Homo sapiens: one gene and its partner. The protein of the gene in region 1 interacts with the protein of each later gene in a biochemical or structural test. Each region holds a gene or a part of one and is shown in the gene's direction. Other genes may lie near its edges. The genes, in order: EIF3B and PAIP1.

Region 1 (10,839 bases):
TTTGAGCTTGTGGGAAGGAGTACCCAATTTGTGTAAAAGTTGAGCTTTTTATTGCAGCCTTATAAATTCAGATCAGGCTTGTCAGGCTATTTAATTGTATGGTAAGTGCTTTAGAAGTTACCCTAGGATTTGACTAGTTTCCATAGCAGGGTGTCCGGCACTGCAGTGACTGGCAACTGCCTTTTTCCCTTTTTTTTTCTCTTGTTCGTCTCAATTTTAGCATCGTTGAAAATAAAACGGCGATTATTTTTTAAGGCAGTATTTTCAATATTTCCTTTTTTTTTTTGAGACAGAGTCTCATTCTCTTGCTCAGACTGGAGTGCAATGGCTCACCGCAGCCTCTGCCTCCCCGCTTCAAGCGATTTTCCTGCCTCAGCCTCCCAAGTAGCTGGGATTATAAGCATGTGCCACCATGCCTGGCTACTTTTTGTATTTTTAATACAGATGGGGTTTTGCCTTGTTGGCCAGGCTGGTCTCGAACTCCTGGCCTCATGTGATTTGCCTTCCTTGGCTTCCAAAAATGCTGGGATTACAGGCGTGAGCCACCATGCTGGGTCAGTTTTCAATATTTCCGAAAGTGTTTTTTTGAGACGGAGTCTTGCTCTGTCGCTGGAGTGAGCCACCATGCCCAGCCAACTTTTGAGAATAAATACAGTAAAGAATATTTTCGGACATCTGCATATTTAGTATGTTGGAATTATCATTATTATTATTATTTGAGATGGAGTCTCACTCTGTCTCCCAGGCTGGAGTGCAGTGGCATGATCTTGGCTCACTGCAACCTCCATCTCCTGGGTTCAAGCGATTCTCCTGCCCCAGCCTCTCCAGTAGCTGGAATTACAGGCACCCACCACCATGCTTGGATCATTTTTCTCGTATTTTTATTAGGGACAGGTTTCACCATGTTGGCCAGGCTGGTCTTGAACTCCTGGCCTCAGGTAATCTGCCTGCCTCGGCCTCCCAAAATGCTGGGATTACAGGCGTGAGCCACTGAGCCTGGCCGTGTTCTAAATTCTGACACGTGATGCTTTCCAGCAGCCCTGCGAGGCATTTCATCACATCAAGAACAGCTTCACCTACCACTAAGAAAAAAATACTGTTATTTAATCTCAGTGGGGGTGGCAGCTCCCACCTGTAGTCCCTGCTACTTGGGAGGCTGAGGCAGGAGGATTGCTAGAGCCCAGGAGTTCCAGGCTAGCCTGGGCAGCATAACAAGACCCTGTCTCTTTACAAAGAAAAAAAAAAGTTGTTTCAGGAGCTTGTATATTCTCCAGTCTCCTAGTTTAAGTGCCGGTCTCTGCCCTGATAGTGTTTTTCAAAAAGGCTCTTTGTGATATAATTAAGAAATGTGTATTTGGGCTCTGCCTGGCTCTTGGCACTCAGCGTCTAAACCCTTGTAATTTCCAAAGTGGTAAGTGTCTTTTTGTAGACGAGGACTTGATTGATGGCTGGGGCTCCTTGCCAGGGAACCAACCACGTGATTAGAGGGTGGGACCTTTTAGGTCTCCCCCTGCCACCCAGAAGGAAGAGGGCTGAAAGTTGAGTTGATCACCGGTGCTCAGTGATGTCATTAATCACGCCTCTATAATGAGATCTTCATAGAAACCCAAAAGGACCAGGTTCAGGGGCTCCATGCAGCGGAACAGGTGGAGGCTTCTGCAGGGTGGTGGCCTGGAGAGCACAGGGAGGCTCTGCGCTTCTCCTCCATCTGCCTTTTCGTCTATATCCTCTGTAACGTCCGTTATAATAAGCTGGCAAACCTAGCTCTCTGAATTCTGTAAGCTGCTGCAGTAAATTAATGGAACCCAAGAAGCGAGGGATAGTGGGAGCCCTGCTTTGTAGCCTGTCGGTCAGAACCGGAGGTGACAGCCCACTACTTGCGACTGCCATCTGAAATGGGGGCCAGTCTTTGGGGCTGAGCCTTCAGCCTGTGGGATCTGATGCTAATTCCTGGTAGATAGTGTCTGAATTGGATTAAGTTAGAGGACACCCAGCTGGTGGCCCCTGGAGAACTGCTTGATGCGACACCCACGTCCGGTGTCAGGCGTTGTGTTGAGTGTTACGTGAGTAGGAAAGACACTGTCACATCCCTGTCTCCTGCAGTTCAGTTGTTTATCCTTAGAGCTTTTTAACCTAAGGAATATTGGGTAAAGATTGTTCTGAACGAAGGTGCGTGGTGGTGGGCTCTGCAGCGGAGAGAGGTGGGGAAGCTCACCCCAGACGCGCTTCCTCTTTGGGTTTTTTCCCCATCCCCTGTGAATGGCCATCCAGTTCACGGCCTGAAAACATGAAAATCACTGGGAACAGGAGGTGGGAGAAGAGTTACTACTTTCATCCCAGTTCACTCGAGAGAGGGTTCCTCCTTGAATAATTTCTGGTAATTTGTATTCACAGCACAAATGTGCTGTGAATATATTGAGCATTTAAATATTTACTTGTTTGCTAAAATCTTCTGTAAAAAGTCAGTTTTCATTGACATTGGGATGGGATTCTGCCTGCCTAGATGTTGCAACAAACCTTTCAAAATCTAGGCATCTCTGGAAGATCTAATAGTGGATATTCTTGAGATGGTCTTCTTCATTTGCATTGTGCATTGTTAAAAGCTTTTCACTGTTATTCTCCTGTAGTCTTTGGTTATTACCAGAACTTAATTGACCTGTCTTGACTGTTTACATTTCCATCAAAGGGAGAGAGGAGAGTTCCAGTCCCCCCAGCTGTCATGTTTAAAATCTGAAACAAGCTAGGGTTAGGATTTCTTTTGCTCACAGTGAAAGCATTTAGACAATTCATTGTCTCTTCTTGAAGACTTGTTTAGTGTGCTCAGTTAATGTATTAATGTTTTTCTTGGTAAAAATGATCATTTGAAAAATCTCTCTTGTTCAGAATTACTGGGAGATGTACTCAAAGATCGGCCCCAGGAAGCAGATGGAATCGATTCGGTGATTGTAGTGGACAATGTCCCTCAGGTGGGACCCGACCGACTTGAGAAACTCAAAAATGTCATCCACAAGATCTTTTCCAAGTTTGGGAAAATCACAAATGATTTTTATCCTGAAGAGGATGGGAAGACAAAAGGGTGAGTGTTCTCCTGTTGGAGAAGTATCATCTGTGTCTGGCACGTCATGATGAGGGAGTGTTGCAGGAGATCCTTACTAACACAGCTCCTGCCTTGCCCAGGCACGTGGGCCGTTCACTTCTTCAGGCCGCCCTCAGCTGGAAGCTATCCAGAGCAGTGAATGAGAAGATGATAAAGTTTGTTTTTTTAAGTTAAGGTTTTAAAGTTTTTAAAATTATCTAGAATAGGCCAGCATGGTGGCTTATGCATAAACTCCCAACACTCTTGAAGCCTGAGGCCAGGAGTTGGAGGCTGCAGTGAGCTATGATAACGTAGCTGTACTCCAGTCTGGGTGACAGAGCAAGACTCTGTCTCTAAAATAAATAAATAAAGTAAAAACTAACTAGAATAGTTTTAGTTTCTAGAATTATCAAATACAGGTAATGCTGCTGCATTTTCTGTGTTGGGCAGTCAGTTGAAGGATGGCCTCTTGACCCTCAGTTACTCGTGTTATAATGAAACATTCTCTGAGGTTCTTTCTTTCTTTCTTTTTTTTGAGTCGGAGTCTCGCTCTGTCGCCCAGGCTGGAGTGCAGTGTCGCAATCTCGGCTCACTGAAAGCTCCGCCTCCCAGGTTCACACTATTCTCCCGCCTCAGCCTCCCTAGTAGCTGGGACTACTGGCGCCCGCTACCACGCCCGGCTAATTTTTTGTATTTTTAGTAGAGACGGGGTTTCACCATGTTAGCCAGAATGGTCTCGATCTCCTGACCTTGTGATCCACCCGCCTCGGCCTCCCAAAGTGCTGGGATTACAGGCCTGAGCCACCGCGCCCGGCCTCTCTGAGCTTCTTTCTAATCTTGCCTGTAATACACAATATTAGACTACTTTTAAGTTTTTTTTGTTTGTTTGTTTGTTTGAGACAGTCTCACTCTTGCCCAGGCTGGAGTGCAGTGGTGTGATCTCAGCTCACTGCAACCTCCGCCTCCCGGGTTCAAGCAATTCTCCTGCCCCACCCTCCCAAGTAGCCGGGATTACAGGCGCACACTACCACGCCTGGCTTGCTTGCTTGCTTATTTATTTATTTATTTATTTATTGAGACAGAGTCTTGCTCTGTCACCCAGGCTGGAGTGCAGTGGCACGATCTTGGCTCACTGCAACCTCCGCCTCCCAGGCTCAAGCAATTCTCCTGCCTTAGCCTCCTGAGTAGCTGGGATTATAAGCATGTGCCACCATGCCCGGCTAATTTTTGTATATTTAGCAGAGACAGGGTTTCACCATGTTGGCCGGGCTGGTCTCGAACTCCTGACCTCAAGTGATCTGCCCACCTTGGCCTCCCAAAGTGCTGGGATTACAGGTGTGAACCATTGCGCCCAGCCAAGATTTTTTTTTAAACAGCTTTATTGAGATAATTGATATACAGTAAATCTGCATAGTTTTAAAGCGTACAATTTAATACATTTTGATGTGTACATATCACGAAACCATCGCCACAGTCAAAATAATGGACGTTTTGATTAACTTTTCTATAATTATGATAATGAAACTAGAGACTTCGGATCTTCTGGTTAGGATTTCCCTGTCACTTAGGAGCTCCCTGGCTGTGGATCTGTCCCCCGTGTGACTGCCTTAGGCTCGAGGCAGGAAGAGCAGCACAGATACTCCTGGCACCGAGGGCTTGTCCGTGGAGAGGGGTGGGGCGGACAGCGCATACCTGCCTAGCCTTACAGTGTGGGTATGTGCCAACGGCCCTCTCTCACTCAGGTATATTTTCCTGGAGTACGCGTCCCCTGCCCACGCTGTGGATGCTGTGAAGAACGCCGACGGCTACAAGCTTGACAAGCAGCACACATTCCGGGTCAACCTCTTTACGGATTTTGACAAGTGAGTTCAGACTTGGCCACAAGGAAGTGGACGTTGACGTGCAAGTGACTGGCTGTGTGCGGGTGGCTTGGTGCTTCTCGGTGCTGGTGTCTGTCAGATTGTTCACATCCTTTCTGGTCAGGCTGCCGCAGAGCCATTTCACAGCCCTGCCCCACACTTCTGGCCTACAGCACCCCTCCCTGTTATGCCAGTCACAGCCCTGGGGGCGGGCAGGCAGGAGCACAGCAGGGCCATGCTGGAGCCCCCACGAGTTGCTCTTTCTAGTCGTCAGGGCGTGGGGCTCAGCAGTCTCCTTTCTTCTCCAGGTATATGACGATCAGTGACGAGTGGGATATTCCAGAGAAACAGCCTTTCAAAGACCTGGTGAGTGGCCTGAAACCTACATCTCAGTGGTTTAAAGAAATGCTGCTGGGTGTGGTGGGTCACACCTGCAATCCCAGCACTTAGGGAGGCTGAGGTGGGAGGATCGCTTAAGCCCAGGAATTCAAGACCAGCCTGGGCAACAAAGTGAGACCCCCGCCTCTACAAAAAGTAAATAAATACATACATTAGCTGGGCCTGGCATGCACCTGTATTCCCAGCTACCTGGGAGGCTGAGGGGGGAGGATCACTTGAGCCTGGGAGGTTGAGCCTGGGAGGTTGAGGCTGCCGTGAGCTATGATTGTGCCACTGGACTCCAGCCTGGGCAACAGCGTGACTCTGTCTCAAAAAAAAAAGAAATGCTAGACGGTGTCTTGACTTGAGGTTAGGGTGTGACTTGGGAGTTAAGATGTGGACTGAACTTGTCATATCTTTAAGAGCAATAGTTGTGAATGAGTTTTTTATTAAAATTAATGAAATGTTATATTCCTTGTCTTTGTTTTTAAGGGGAACTTACGTTACTGGCTTGAAGAGGCAGAATGCAGAGATCAGTACAGTGTGATTTTTGAGAGTGGAGACCGCACTTCCATATTCTGGAATGACGTAAAAGACCCTGTCTCAATTGAAGAAAGAGCGGTGTGTATTTGCTGCTGCTGGGGGCGGGGACTCACCTCTCCTGTATTTCCTTAACAAAGTGGAACTTTGTTTCTATCAGAAAACTGGAAGAGCAGGTGACGTTATATTTTCTTTGAGATTACTTTCTGAAAACAACTTCTTTTATTCCTCTTCCAGCTTTGAAGTAAATCCTGAGAAGTGAACAGGCTTTGTGTATTTCACTTAAGAGTTTGCAGAATAGGCCGGGCGCGGTGGCTCACGCCTGTAATCCCAGCACTTTGGGAGGCCAAGGTGGGTGGATCACGAGGTCAGGAGATTGAGACCATCCTGGCTAACACGGTGAAACCCCGTCTCTACTAAAAATACAAAAAAATTAGCTGGGCATGGTGGCAGGCACCTGTAGTCCCCGCTACTCGGGAGGCTGAGGCAGGAGAATGGCATGAACCTGGGAGGTGGAGCTTGCAGTGAGCTGAGATTGCGCCACTGCACTCCAGCCTGGGAGACAGCGAGACTCCGTCTCAAAAAAAAAAAAAGTTTGTAGAACAGATTCATTGTAGGATAAATTCATTGTAGGAGGGGTCTTTGTGTTTGCCATTTTGTTGTATTAACGTTGGCACTGCCTTTTTCTGCAGAGATGGACAGAGACGTATGTGCGTTGGTCTCCTAAGGGCACCTACCTGGCTACCTTTCATCAAAGAGGCATTGCTCTATGGGGGGGAGAGAAATTCAAGCAAATTCAGAGATTCAGCCACCAAGGGGTTCAGCTTATTGACTTCTCACCTTGTGAAAGGTAAGCTGCTAGAAAAACACAGGGGAGTCTATGCATTTCACCCCATGCCAGCCTTCTACAGGTGATCTTTCATTTTGTAGCATTTCAAACTTAGTAGAAAAATACGGGAGTATGCAGAACGCTAATAAGCTTTTTACTGAGATCTTCTCACATTTGGTTGCATTTACGTCATCATCTCCTATACAGATATTTTTTCCTGAGCCATTTGGGAGTGAGTTGAAATAACATGTCCCTTTAGCCCTGAATGTGTATTCCTAGAAATAGGATTTTGTTAGTGTGACCATAGTGTGGGTACTGACTTCAGGGATTTACCATTCATTTAATACTTCAATGTATTGCCATATTCTGATTTTGTTACTTGACCTAATAATGTTCTGTATAATACTTACTTTCCTTCAGTTCAGGATCTAGTCTAAGGTCACGTATTTTACAGATAATAAATTGTCCTTCCTCTATCACCCAGGCTTGGCGCCACCCAGTGGCACCATTGCAGGCTCATTGCAACCCCAGCCTCCCAGGTCAAGCGGTTCTCCCACCTCAGCCTTCCTGAGTAGCGGGGACCGCAGGCACACGCCATGACATATGGCTAATTTTATTTTTTGTAGAGATGGGGGTCTCACTTTGTTGTACAAGGTAGTCTTGAACCCCTGGGCTCAAGTGATCTCCTGCCTTGACCTCCCAGAGTGCTGGGATTACAGGCGTGAGCCACCGCACCTGGCCGAGCCGTGATTTTTGATCTAGCTAATCCGGCTGTCGGAGGCCTGCTAGGGAAAGGGGCGGTTGTGGGAGGCAGTGTGAGGCGAGCTGGGGCCACTCTAGGGAAAGGGACAGTTGTGGAAGGCAGTGTGAGGCGAACGGGGGCCACTCTAGGGAAAGGGGCAGTTGTGGAAGGCAGTGCGAGGCGAGCTGGGGCCGCTCTGTTTTCGCCCTCATGGGTTGTGTCTGCCTTCCCCTCTGGTGTTGTAAGGGACCGTCTGTTACACACTTTGTGTGAACTGAGTAAGCAGGTGCAGTAGCTCCAGACAAGCCAGCAGTCAGGTAAATCATGGCTGGGAGGAGCCCCCAGGCTCTGAAGTTTCTATCAGACCTGTGCTGGCTTTCGAACTGGATGGGACTTGTTTTTTTGTTTGTTTGTTTGTTTGTTTGTTTTGTTTTTTTTTTTTTTGAAACTGAGTTTCATGCGTCGCCCAGACTGGAATGTAGTGGCACGATACCAGTTCACTGCAACCTCCACCTCCCGGGTTCAAGCTATTCTCCTGCCTCAGCCTCCTGAGTAGCTGGGATTACAAGTGCCTGCCACCACGCCCGGCTAATTTTTGTATTTTTAGTAGAGACAGGGTCTCACCATGTCGGCCATGGTTGGCCAAGCTTGTCTTAAACTCCGGACCTTGGGTGATCCACCCACCTCGGCCTCCCAAAGTGCTGGGATTACAGGTGTGAGCCACTGCGCCCAGCCGTATTTTTTTAACTTGTTAGTCTTTATTAAACATGGGTAAAGATAGAGTTCCACACTGCGCCACCCTCTGGATCACTTAGCAGCCTTGTGTGGGATCGGTGAGATCTTCTGTGCTGATCTTGGAGAAACCGGAGCGCCTGCAGCGTATTGACACCAGAATGAACAAGCGCCGCTGCTTCCCGCTTCCGCTTGGGTCTCTTGGGGCCGGGCAGTGTGGGGTTTGGGGAGAGAGCTGGTTCCGCGAGTTCTGACGGCGTGTTCTGGCCGCACAGACAGACTGTGATCCTCTCGTGAGAGGAGGATAGTGTACAGTGTTGCCCTTCTCTTCTAGGTACCTGGTGACCTTTAGCCCCCTGATGGACACGCAGGATGACCCTCAGGCCATAATCATCTGGGACATCCTTACGGGGCACAAGAAGAGGGGTTTTCACTGTGAGAGCTCAGCCCATTGGCCTATTTTTAAGTAAGTGGACCATTGTAACGAGCTCTGTAGCCTTTGTCTTTTCATGGGAATACCCTGGCACTTTTGTTTTTCTTAGGTGGAGCCATGATGGCAAATTCTTTGCCAGAATGACCCTGGATACGCTTAGCATCTATGAAACTCCTGTAAGTGGCCTCAGTGATGGCAAACGCCCCGTCCGGTCCTTGCTTGTAACCGGGGTGTGGTGCCTTTCCTTATTTGTGCTAGAAGAGGAGGAGGAGGTTTCACAGATGCATAGGAAAGGCCTGTCTCCTGTGCCTTTTTAACTGCCCCTGCTCTGGGCAGAGCTCTTCAGTCACTCCTGCCCACCTGGCGCAGCCGTGGGAAGTCCTGGATGGGAGTTAATGCAGTGGGCTTCAGAACTGCAGTTCTGGGTGGCGGGTGGGTGGATGGGTTCACTGTCACGCTCTGTGTGCACTGCCCCCTAGGCAAACTCACATCAGACTCTTGTTTCCTTTTGTAAAAAGTTAGGTGTGTTTCTGAGACACTGACATGATTTGACTCAACTGCAGCCTTCCTTTTTTTTGGGCAGTCTATGGGTCTTTTGGACAAGAAGAGTTTGAAGATCTCTGGGATAAAGTGAGTATTCTTATCAGTTTGGTGTCTTAGTGTGTTCAGGCTGCTTAACACAATACCAAAAAAAAAAAAAAAAACACAATACCATAGGCTGGGTGGCTTATGACAGCTGAGATTTCTTTCTCCCAGTTCTGGAGCTTGGGAGCTTGAGGTCAGGGTGCCTGCAGACTGTCTGGTGACGGCCCACCTCCCTCCTAGTGGACAGCCCCTCGGTCCAGCCTTCCCTGGAGGAAGGCCTCCGTGGCCTGTTCTGTAAAGTCTCTCATCTCATTCCCAAGGGCTTCCCCCTCAGGACCTCCCACCCCCCAAAAGGCCCCACCCCATGCCGTCACCCCAGGGGGTTAGAATTTCACCCTGTGAATCTGGGGGACACAGACGTGGTCCATTGCAGTTGGTTTCCTTTATTTGCTGTCTCTCCTTTAGCACTCAGCTTTTTGTTGTTGTTGTTAGAGACAGAGTCTCGCTCCGTCAGGCTGGAGTGCAGTGATACGATCTTGGCTCGCTGCAACCTCCACCTCCTGGGTTCAAGTGATTCTTCTGCCTCAACCTCCCGAGTAGCTGGGACTACAGGCATGTGCCACCAAGCCCGGCTAATTTTTGTATTTTTAGTAGGGATGGGGTTTCACCATGTTGGCTGGGCTGGTCTCAAACTCCTGACCTTGTGATCTGCCCGCCTCAGCCTCCCAAAGTGCTGAGATTACAGGCGTGAGCCACCATGCCCAGCCTGTCACTCAGTTCTTAACCAGTTGGAGAGAAAACGGTGAGTTTGTTCTTTTTTTAAAATTTTTTTTTTTTTTTTTTTTTTTTTTTTTTTTTTGAGGCAGAGTCTTACTCTGTCTTGCAGGCTGGTGTAGAGTGGCGAGATCTTGGCTCACTGCAATTTCCACCTCCTGGGTTCAAGTGATTCTCCTTGCCTTAGACTCCCAAGTAGCTGGGACTGCAGGTGCCTGCCACCATGCCTAGCTAATTTTTGTATTTTTAGTAGAGATGGGGTTTCACTGTGTTGGCCATGCTGGTCTCAGAACTCCTGACCTCAAGTGATCTGCCCACCTCAGCCTCCCAAAGTGCTGGGATTACTGGCGTGAGCCACCACACCCAGCCATTTTTAAATCTTTTTTGAGACAGAGTCTTACTCTGTTGCCCAGGCTGGAGTACAGTGGCGTGATCTCGGCTGACTGCAGCCTTCACCTCCCAGGTTCAAACGATTCTGGTGCTTCAGTCTCCTGAGTAGCTGGAATTACAGGCGCGCAACCACTACGCCCAGCTAATTTTTTGTATATTTTAGAAGAGTCGGGGTTTCACCATGTTGGCCAGGCTGGTCTCGAACTCCTGACCTCAAGTGATCCGCCTGCCCGCCTCAGCCTCTCAAAGTGCAGGGATTACAGGTGTGAGCCACCGCGCCCGGCCTAAGGTGAGTTTGTTCTGGACACAAGGATGGAGGCTTGAGTCAGTGGGCAGCAAGGCTGCTCAGCATTGGGCCCGCCACCCTTGAGGCACCACTTCAGTGACCCCTTCCCGTGCCTAGAAATGAATTTTCAAGGCCAGAGCCTTGAGTCGGCTTCCTTCCATCTACCTCGTCTTTGATCTAGAAACTGAGGAGGGTGGGGTTTCCAGCCTTTTAAG
Region 2 (7,219 bases), on another chromosome or scaffold:
GTTTTCTAAAGTGACTATAGCATTTTACATTCTCACCAGCAATGTATGAGCAACACAGTTCCTAGTTTCTCTACATCCTTGAATTTGCATTGTCACTATTGTTTATTTAAGCTATTCGAATAAGTAGGTAGTGAAATCTCAGTGGTTTTAAAAAAATTTTCCTACTGGCTAATTATGTTGAACATTTTTCATAGGCTTATGCTATCTGTATATTCCCTTCAGTGAAGTGTTCTTTCATTTATGTTTGGCCCTTTTCTAACTGAACTGTCCTTTTACAGTTGAGTTAGGTGTTTTGTTTGTTTGGGTTTTTTTCAGACGGAGTCACGCTCAACCCAGGCTGGAGTGCAGTGGTGCAATCTCGGCTCACTGCAACCTCTGCCTCCCGGGTTCAAGCGATTCCCCTGCCTCAGCCTCCCAAGTAGCTGGGATTACAAGCACGCATCACCATGCCTGCTAATTTTTGTATTTTTAGTAGAGACGGGGTTTCACATGTTGTCCAGGTTGGTCTCGAACTCCTGACCTCAGGTAATCTGTCCGCCTCAGCCTCCCATAGTGCTGGGATCGCACCTGGCTATAGTACTCTCAATACAGTTGAGTTCTGAGAGTACTTTATATATTCTAGATACAAGTCTTTTGTCAAATATGTGGTGCCTTCATCCATTTTTGTTGCTATAAAGGAATAGCTGAGGCTGGGTAATTTATAAAGAAAAGGGTTTCATTTGGCTCACTATTCTGCAGGCTGTACTAGAAGCATGGCACCAACATCTGCTTCTGGTGAGGGCTTCAGCCTGCTTCTATGCATGGCAGAAAGTGAAGGGGAGACAGTGTGCAGAGATTACATGGCAAGAGAGGAAGCATGAGACAGGGGGAGTGTGCCAGGCTCTTTTCAACAACCAGCTCTTGGGGAAACTCCTTGGGAACTAGTAAAACCATAACTCATTCGTTACTGTGAGAATGGCACCATGCCATTCATGAGGAATCTGCCACCATGACCCAAACGCCTTCCATTAGGCCCCACCTCCAACATTCAGGATCAAGTTTCAACAGGAGGCTTGGAGGGTCAAATATACAAACTATACCATGTGGTTTGCAAATATTTCCTCTTGCATATTTATGAAAATTTTCTCCTGTTAGCTGGCCTTGAAGGCTGTACTGTCTACTCCCATAAGGTCTAATGATGATCCTGAGGTCAATAAGTTCTAAAAAAACAGTCTTTTTTTTTTTTTTTTTTTTTTTACCATCACTAGACTGGTGACCTAAGGAAAGGCAGGACCATTGCAGGTGAGTCCTATTTCTGTTAAAAGCTTATTATGGACTAAGTACTGGGTTGGACCTAAAGGATTAAAAGGCATCCTCTGTCTTCAGAGGGCTAGTTTAGGGAAGGAGACATTTAAATAAACCAAATACTAACGATAACAATCTGGCATGCTAAGTACCAAGACAGTTTTCCCAGGGTATACTTATCACAAGGGAGAGAATCTAAGATTAGGCAGCTTGGGAAGTCTTACTGGAGAATGCCTTTCAAGTACAGTTTAAGGAAACATTTTTTTCATAGTTCACAGCAGGTCCTTTTCCATATTACAACATATTTTCCAATTTGTCCAAATTTAGTTCTACTCTCCTTTCACCATAAATTAATAAAAAAGGCATACACGTGGATGAGGAGCACTTTGATGATTCTCTTTAGGGAGTTCCACATGGTGTTCACACGTTCATGTGTTTCTGTCTATGCATTTTGCAATACCTGCCAGTTAGCTCTAAAACAGTCCCAAGATGGATCTGAGCCCTTGCGGTATCTTGGCACCTTTTATGTAAAGTGAAAATATTGGAATGTCTATCTCACAGGATATGAGGATAAAATAAAATGATAAAATAAAAGCTCTTAAAAGGTGACTGACGCATAATAAATATTAGATATTTTTATTATCATGATGCAAAATCCATTCGTGTTATCTCCAAGTCCACCATCCACACATTATAAGAATAGGGCAAAAGTTATACAGTAACAAATACAGAGAAGGCAAAGGATATCTTACCTAATTTTCCTAACAAGAGGGTGTGAAGATGTCGTGACATCACCATGGATGCAGAATGGCCTTATCTTCACATGGGAAAGTCCCAGTTGTTAGAAAAGGTGCTGTTCATCATAAAAGTTTTAAGGGGAAATGAAAAGGTGGTGAGTGCAAACAAAAGCTTGGGGCAGAGTTGGGGCATCTACTTCAGTGGAACATAACTCATTGTTAGTTTTTTAGCATAGTTTATGGGTCTTTCCTGTATGATAAAAAAGTCCAGGCAAGAAGTGACTGGTGACCACATACAATAATGAATTTGAAAATATTAAAATTGTAATTTTTAAATTGTAATCTTGTCTCTGCAATATATGCTGAGTGTTACCACACAGTTATTATTTTACAGATGAGGAAAGTGAGGCTCAGAGAAGCTAAACCCCTTACTTACTCAAAATCACACAGACAGCAATAGTCAAGAGTGGAATCCCAACTAAGCTCTGGCAGACTGAATCCTAAACTTTCCGTACACCGAAGAGCCACACGTACTGCTGGCTTCCTTCCCTGACTTCATTATTTTGCCTAACATCAATAGCATGAACCATTTATTCATGATTGCCCTCGGTGAAGCCATTTTCTCATTCGTTTAGGGGAAGACATTGTTTTCTTTATTAATGAGAAGAGAAAACGGTTAACAAGAGTTTGTGTCCCTAATTGAAATGATTCTTAAGATGAAAAGATAGAAAAACATGAAACCCTGCTTAAAACAAAAGGCTAAAATCAGAATTTATGGAGATGGATCAATCCAACAGTAAAGAAATCAATTTTTCCTTCCTTGTCGTTACTTATATTCATCTATCCTTTATTTGGCATTAATACTGTCAGGCCTGACAAAAACAACAATTTACATATTAATAAAATCTAGAATTGTGCTGTGCAACGCAGTAGCCACTAGCCACATGTGGCTCTTGAGCCCTTGAAATGTGCCAATCCCGACTAAGATGTGCCATAAGTGTAAAATATACACTGGATTTCAACTAGTATCTAAAAAACAGAGAAAATATTTAATATTTTAAATCGCATGTTAAAAAACCATTTTGAACATAATGGATTAAATAAATTTAAATTAATTTCACCTGGTTTTTGTTTTGTTTTGTTTTGTTTTTTGAGACAGAGTTTGGCTCTTGTTGCCCAGGCTGGAGTGCAACGGTACGATCTCGGCTCACTGCAACCTCTGCCTCCTGCGTTCAAGCGATTCTCCTGCCTCAGCCTCCAGAATAGCTAGGATTACAGGCATGTGCCACCACGCCCGGCTAACTTTGTATTTTTAGTAGAGACGGGGTTTCTCCATGTTGGTCTGGCTGGTCTCGAACTCCCGACCTCAGGTGATCCGCCCCCCTCGGCCTCCCAAAGTGCTGGGATTACAGGCGTGAGCCACTGCGCCTGGCCACACCTGTTTCTTTTCACTCATTTAATGTGGCTTCTCCAAAATGTAAAATTACATAAGTGGCTTGCATTTGTGGCTCGCATTATATTTTCATTGGACAGCACTGATGCAAGATGAAAAAGAGGGCAGAGTTACACTGAAAGGTAGCACATTTTCTTGAAATTTCTGGAGGGGAAGGTTAACGGGAAGAGAACGAAGCTTGTTAAACGTAGGTGTGACCTACTGTGGTAAACACCTAGGGTGAATTAAAGAGGGGACACATATTTTGATTCCGTTTCTACTCCCTTCCCCCGATGCTAACGGAGCAGGTGACAGTCTCCCAGGGACCACTCCTCAGCAGTCCGCGGGTCTCGGCCGGAGCCGAGTCATTGAACACACCTGTGCGCCAGCGAACCCTGGCGCAGGGTCCACGCCCCCTCCCCCCGTGTTTTTATTTCCCGGGCGTCAACTGTCGGTCTCGCACGTCTCTCCTGAGAACTACCGAGTAGGTCGGGCCTGCCTGTGGTAAGCGTCCCCCTCACCCCTCATCCCTCATCCCCCCCAGCCTGGCCCCGGAACCGAGATGCCCCTGCCCGAGCCTGGCTGCGGGCCGGCAGGTGGCCAAGACGCCACTCGGCGGGCGGCCTGCTGGGCCCGGCGGCCGGCCAGCCGCGAACTGGAGGATCCTCGCGGGCGCGTCCCGGGCCTCCGGGCCGCAGGGGGCCGCTGTGACCCGCCTGCGCCCCTGCCGCGCCGAAGGCGGGGAGCCGGGTTTTGGGGGAGAACTGGAAAGCCGAGGGTAGCCGAGCGGGGCGGGCGCTCTGGAGCGGCGGGTGCTCGGGCTGCCGTCCGCTCCGCCAGAAGCACCGAGCAGCCGAGCCGGGGCCCGCCGCCCTCCTCCTCCATGAGGCCCGAGTGAGGCGCGGCGGCTATAGCCGACCCGCGGCGCCTTCCCCCCGCGTCCTATCGCGAGCGCAGCGGCAGCGGCCCCTGGAGGAGGAGGCGGAGGAGGAGGAGCATGTCGGACGGTTTCGATCGGGCCCCAGGTGCTGGTCGGGGCCGGAGCCGGGGCCTGGGCCGCGGAGGGGGCGGGCCTGAGGGCGGCGGTTTCCCGAACGGAGCGGGGCCTGCTGAGCGGGCGCGGCACCAGCCGCCGCAACCCAAAGCCCCGGGCTTCCTGCAGCCACCGCCGCTGCGCCAGCCCAGGACGACCCCGCCGCCAGGGGCCCAGTGCGAGGTCCCCGCCAGCCCCCAGCGGCCTTCCCGGCCCGGGGCGCTCCCAGGTACGGAGCAGCTCTAAGGGCCCCAGTCCTCCTTGGCGAACGCTTCCCCACGGCCCTCCACGCGTGCCGAGGCCCGACGCGCTGTCTGCGGTCCCCACCCCCGGTTCCCCGAAAGCATTCCCCGAGAGGGCCGCGTGACCGGGTAGGGACGGGCCCGGAACCGGGTTTGGAAGGTGTCTGCTGGAATCCTTTGTGCGCCTGGCTGGGGGGAGGGGCCGGGTGCGCGGTCTCGGAGTTCGGGGTCCCGGGAGGAAGTAAAAATCGCCTCCCCTCAGCAGCCCTCTAAAGCGAGACCCTAGCGAGTAACCACCTCTTTTCCACCGACCCCTTTAAAACGACAGAGAGGAAAAAAGCTCGCAAGCACTCATTTGAGAGGCAGGTATGCCCATAACGGAGTCACAGCAAGTCTATTGTTCCTTTTTGTAGGCTGTCTGTACACATTCCGGCGATAACCATAAATTTCATGATGGTTCCTGTTTAACTCTTAAAAACAGACGCTTTTCAGATGGTTTTTCAGTATATAGCAAGTTGCTGTACAAAGGAAAGAATGCATCTGACGCCCCGTTTTTTTTTCTTTTGCAGAGCAAACGAGGCCCCTGAGAGCTCCACCTAGTTCACAGGATAAAATCCCACAGCAGAACTCGGAGTCAGCAATGGCTAAGCCCCAGGTGGTTGTAGCTCCTGTATTAATGTCTAAGCTGTCTGTGAATGCCCCTGAATTTTACCCTTCAGGTTATTCTTCCAGTTACACAGTAAGTACACCCTTTTTCCTACAACTCTGGGTTAATTTACTGGAATAATGTGGTTGTTACTTTGTTAATCAGAGTATGTTTGTGCTTTCTGTACTACACGTAAAAAAATTTTTTTATTGTGAATGTTTTGAATTATTGAACTCAGAAGGAAACAAAGCTGATTCAGAAATACATTTTGTAGTTATATTCAAGGTATTAGAATGTAAGCTTGAGATACACATCTGTGTTCTTGTTTCTAGTGATTATTCCATTATGTTAAAATAGACATAGTTTTGATCCTAATTATTGTATGCAGAAATGTCCTACGGGGTTGTGATAAAGTATTTACATAGGTATAAAGAATGTTTAAACTTTCAGTTTTTCTTTGTCACTTATATAACAACTTTAAAAAATAGTCACTTTTCTTAAATAGCCGTACAAAGCACAGTTGGAATATGTAGAAAGGAATTTGTTGTACTGGATAAACCCAGATGAGTAAATGCATAGGGATTAATTATAGAGAAGTGGGAGGGAATCATTGGAGAAATGATTGATGATACTTTAGCTTAAATCCTGTCTTTCCTATCTTCTTAGTTTTATTGAAGTATAGCAGAGAATAGTGTACTTAAGTGTTAGCTCAGTCTCATAAAGTGAACACTCAACTAACCAGCATCCCAGTCAGGAAATAGAACATTATCAACATCCCGAAAACCCACTCTGTCTCCTTCCAGTTGTTCTTGATGTCCAAGTATAGCACTGTTTTGACTTCATAGGATAGTTTTGCCTGTGTTCAAAGTTTATATAAATAAAGTCATATAGAATATATTCTTTCTCACTTTCAATATCAAGATTACTCCATATTGTAGCATATAATTGGAGGTGACTTATTTTTATAACATTCCATTGCATGAATATATCCCATTTGTCTGTTGATGAACGTTGGTAGCTTTCACTCTTGGGTTATTATGAATAGGGCACATTTTGTGTCTTGCTGGCTGTATGCCTTTATTTCTTTTTGGTATATTACCAAGGTATGGAGTTGCTGGGACTTAGGGTAGCCAGCTTTAGCAGAGACTGCCAAGTAGTTTTCCAGAGATTGTTCCACTGTACATTCTGAGTAGTGTATGATTTCCAGTTACTCTGCTTCCTGGTCGGCACTTGGTATTTTCTGTTTAACCATTCTGGTGGGCATATAGTATCTAGTTGTGGTTTTAATTTATATTTCCCTTATAACTGATAATGACACACCTTTTTTATTACCTCTTTTTGGCTCTCCTTCCATATTTGACAGTAAAAGTATGGAAAAAGCTGTGTTCCATGTTTTAGATACTCCATGATTCTTATGCTGTATAGGAAAAAGCTTTGGGATTGGAAAGAAAAAGATACAGGCATAGCAGGAAAAGCAATTGATATGGGGTGAAAAAGGCCATCTATCGTGTAAGGTAGAAATGAGAGCATCTTGAGTTCTTGCCAGAAAATTGTATTTAGCTCACAGAGGAAAAGAACCATTAGAGCCACTGTAAGAGGTTGAATAAACTCTTAAGGATGCTTGTTCTAGCAGCTACAAGCAGGTTCCCATTTATTTTCTTCCCTATTGACTTGGGCTGTTTTATGATGGAGGGATACAGGGGTGTGTTTGTGTATGTAATAATCGTGTATCAACTATTTTTACGTGGTTCAAGTGACTTTGGGGCTGTCGAGCAGTATATAAAGTCATGTTAGTCCACCTACTTTGAGCCACTGCATCTTTTAGGCATTCCTTGCCATCCTCTA

What was found.
Region 2: the proteins of EIF3B (region 1) and PAIP1 form a complex in vitro, tested with the Homo sapiens proteins (one study listed by BioGRID).

The regions. Positions count from the first base shown.
Region 1 is NC_000007.14:2,357,827-2,368,665, forward strand, and holds part of EIF3B (eukaryotic translation initiation factor 3 subunit B), read left to right. Parts: intron 1-2,883; coding exon 2,884-3,076; intron 3,077-4,818; coding exon 4,819-4,938; intron 4,939-5,243; coding exon 5,244-5,301; intron 5,302-5,805; coding exon 5,806-5,934; intron 5,935-6,545; coding exon 6,546-6,703; intron 6,704-8,490; coding exon 8,491-8,622; intron 8,623-8,698; coding exon 8,699-8,765; intron 8,766-9,107; coding exon of another isoform or gene 9,108-9,131; exon of another isoform or gene 9,132-9,146; intron 9,147-9,172; coding exon 9,173-9,219; intron 9,220-10,839.
Region 2 is NC_000005.10:43,554,078-43,561,296, reverse strand, and holds the start of PAIP1 (polyadenylate-binding protein-interacting protein 1), read left to right. Parts: upstream 1-4,219; 5' UTR 4,220-4,450; coding exon 4,451-4,715; intron 4,716-5,297; coding exon 5,298-5,467; intron 5,468-7,219. UniProt on the Homo sapiens protein: Acts as a coactivator in the regulation of translation initiation of poly(A)-containing mRNAs. Its stimulatory activity on translation is mediated via its action on PABPC1. Competes with PAIP2 for binding to PABPC1.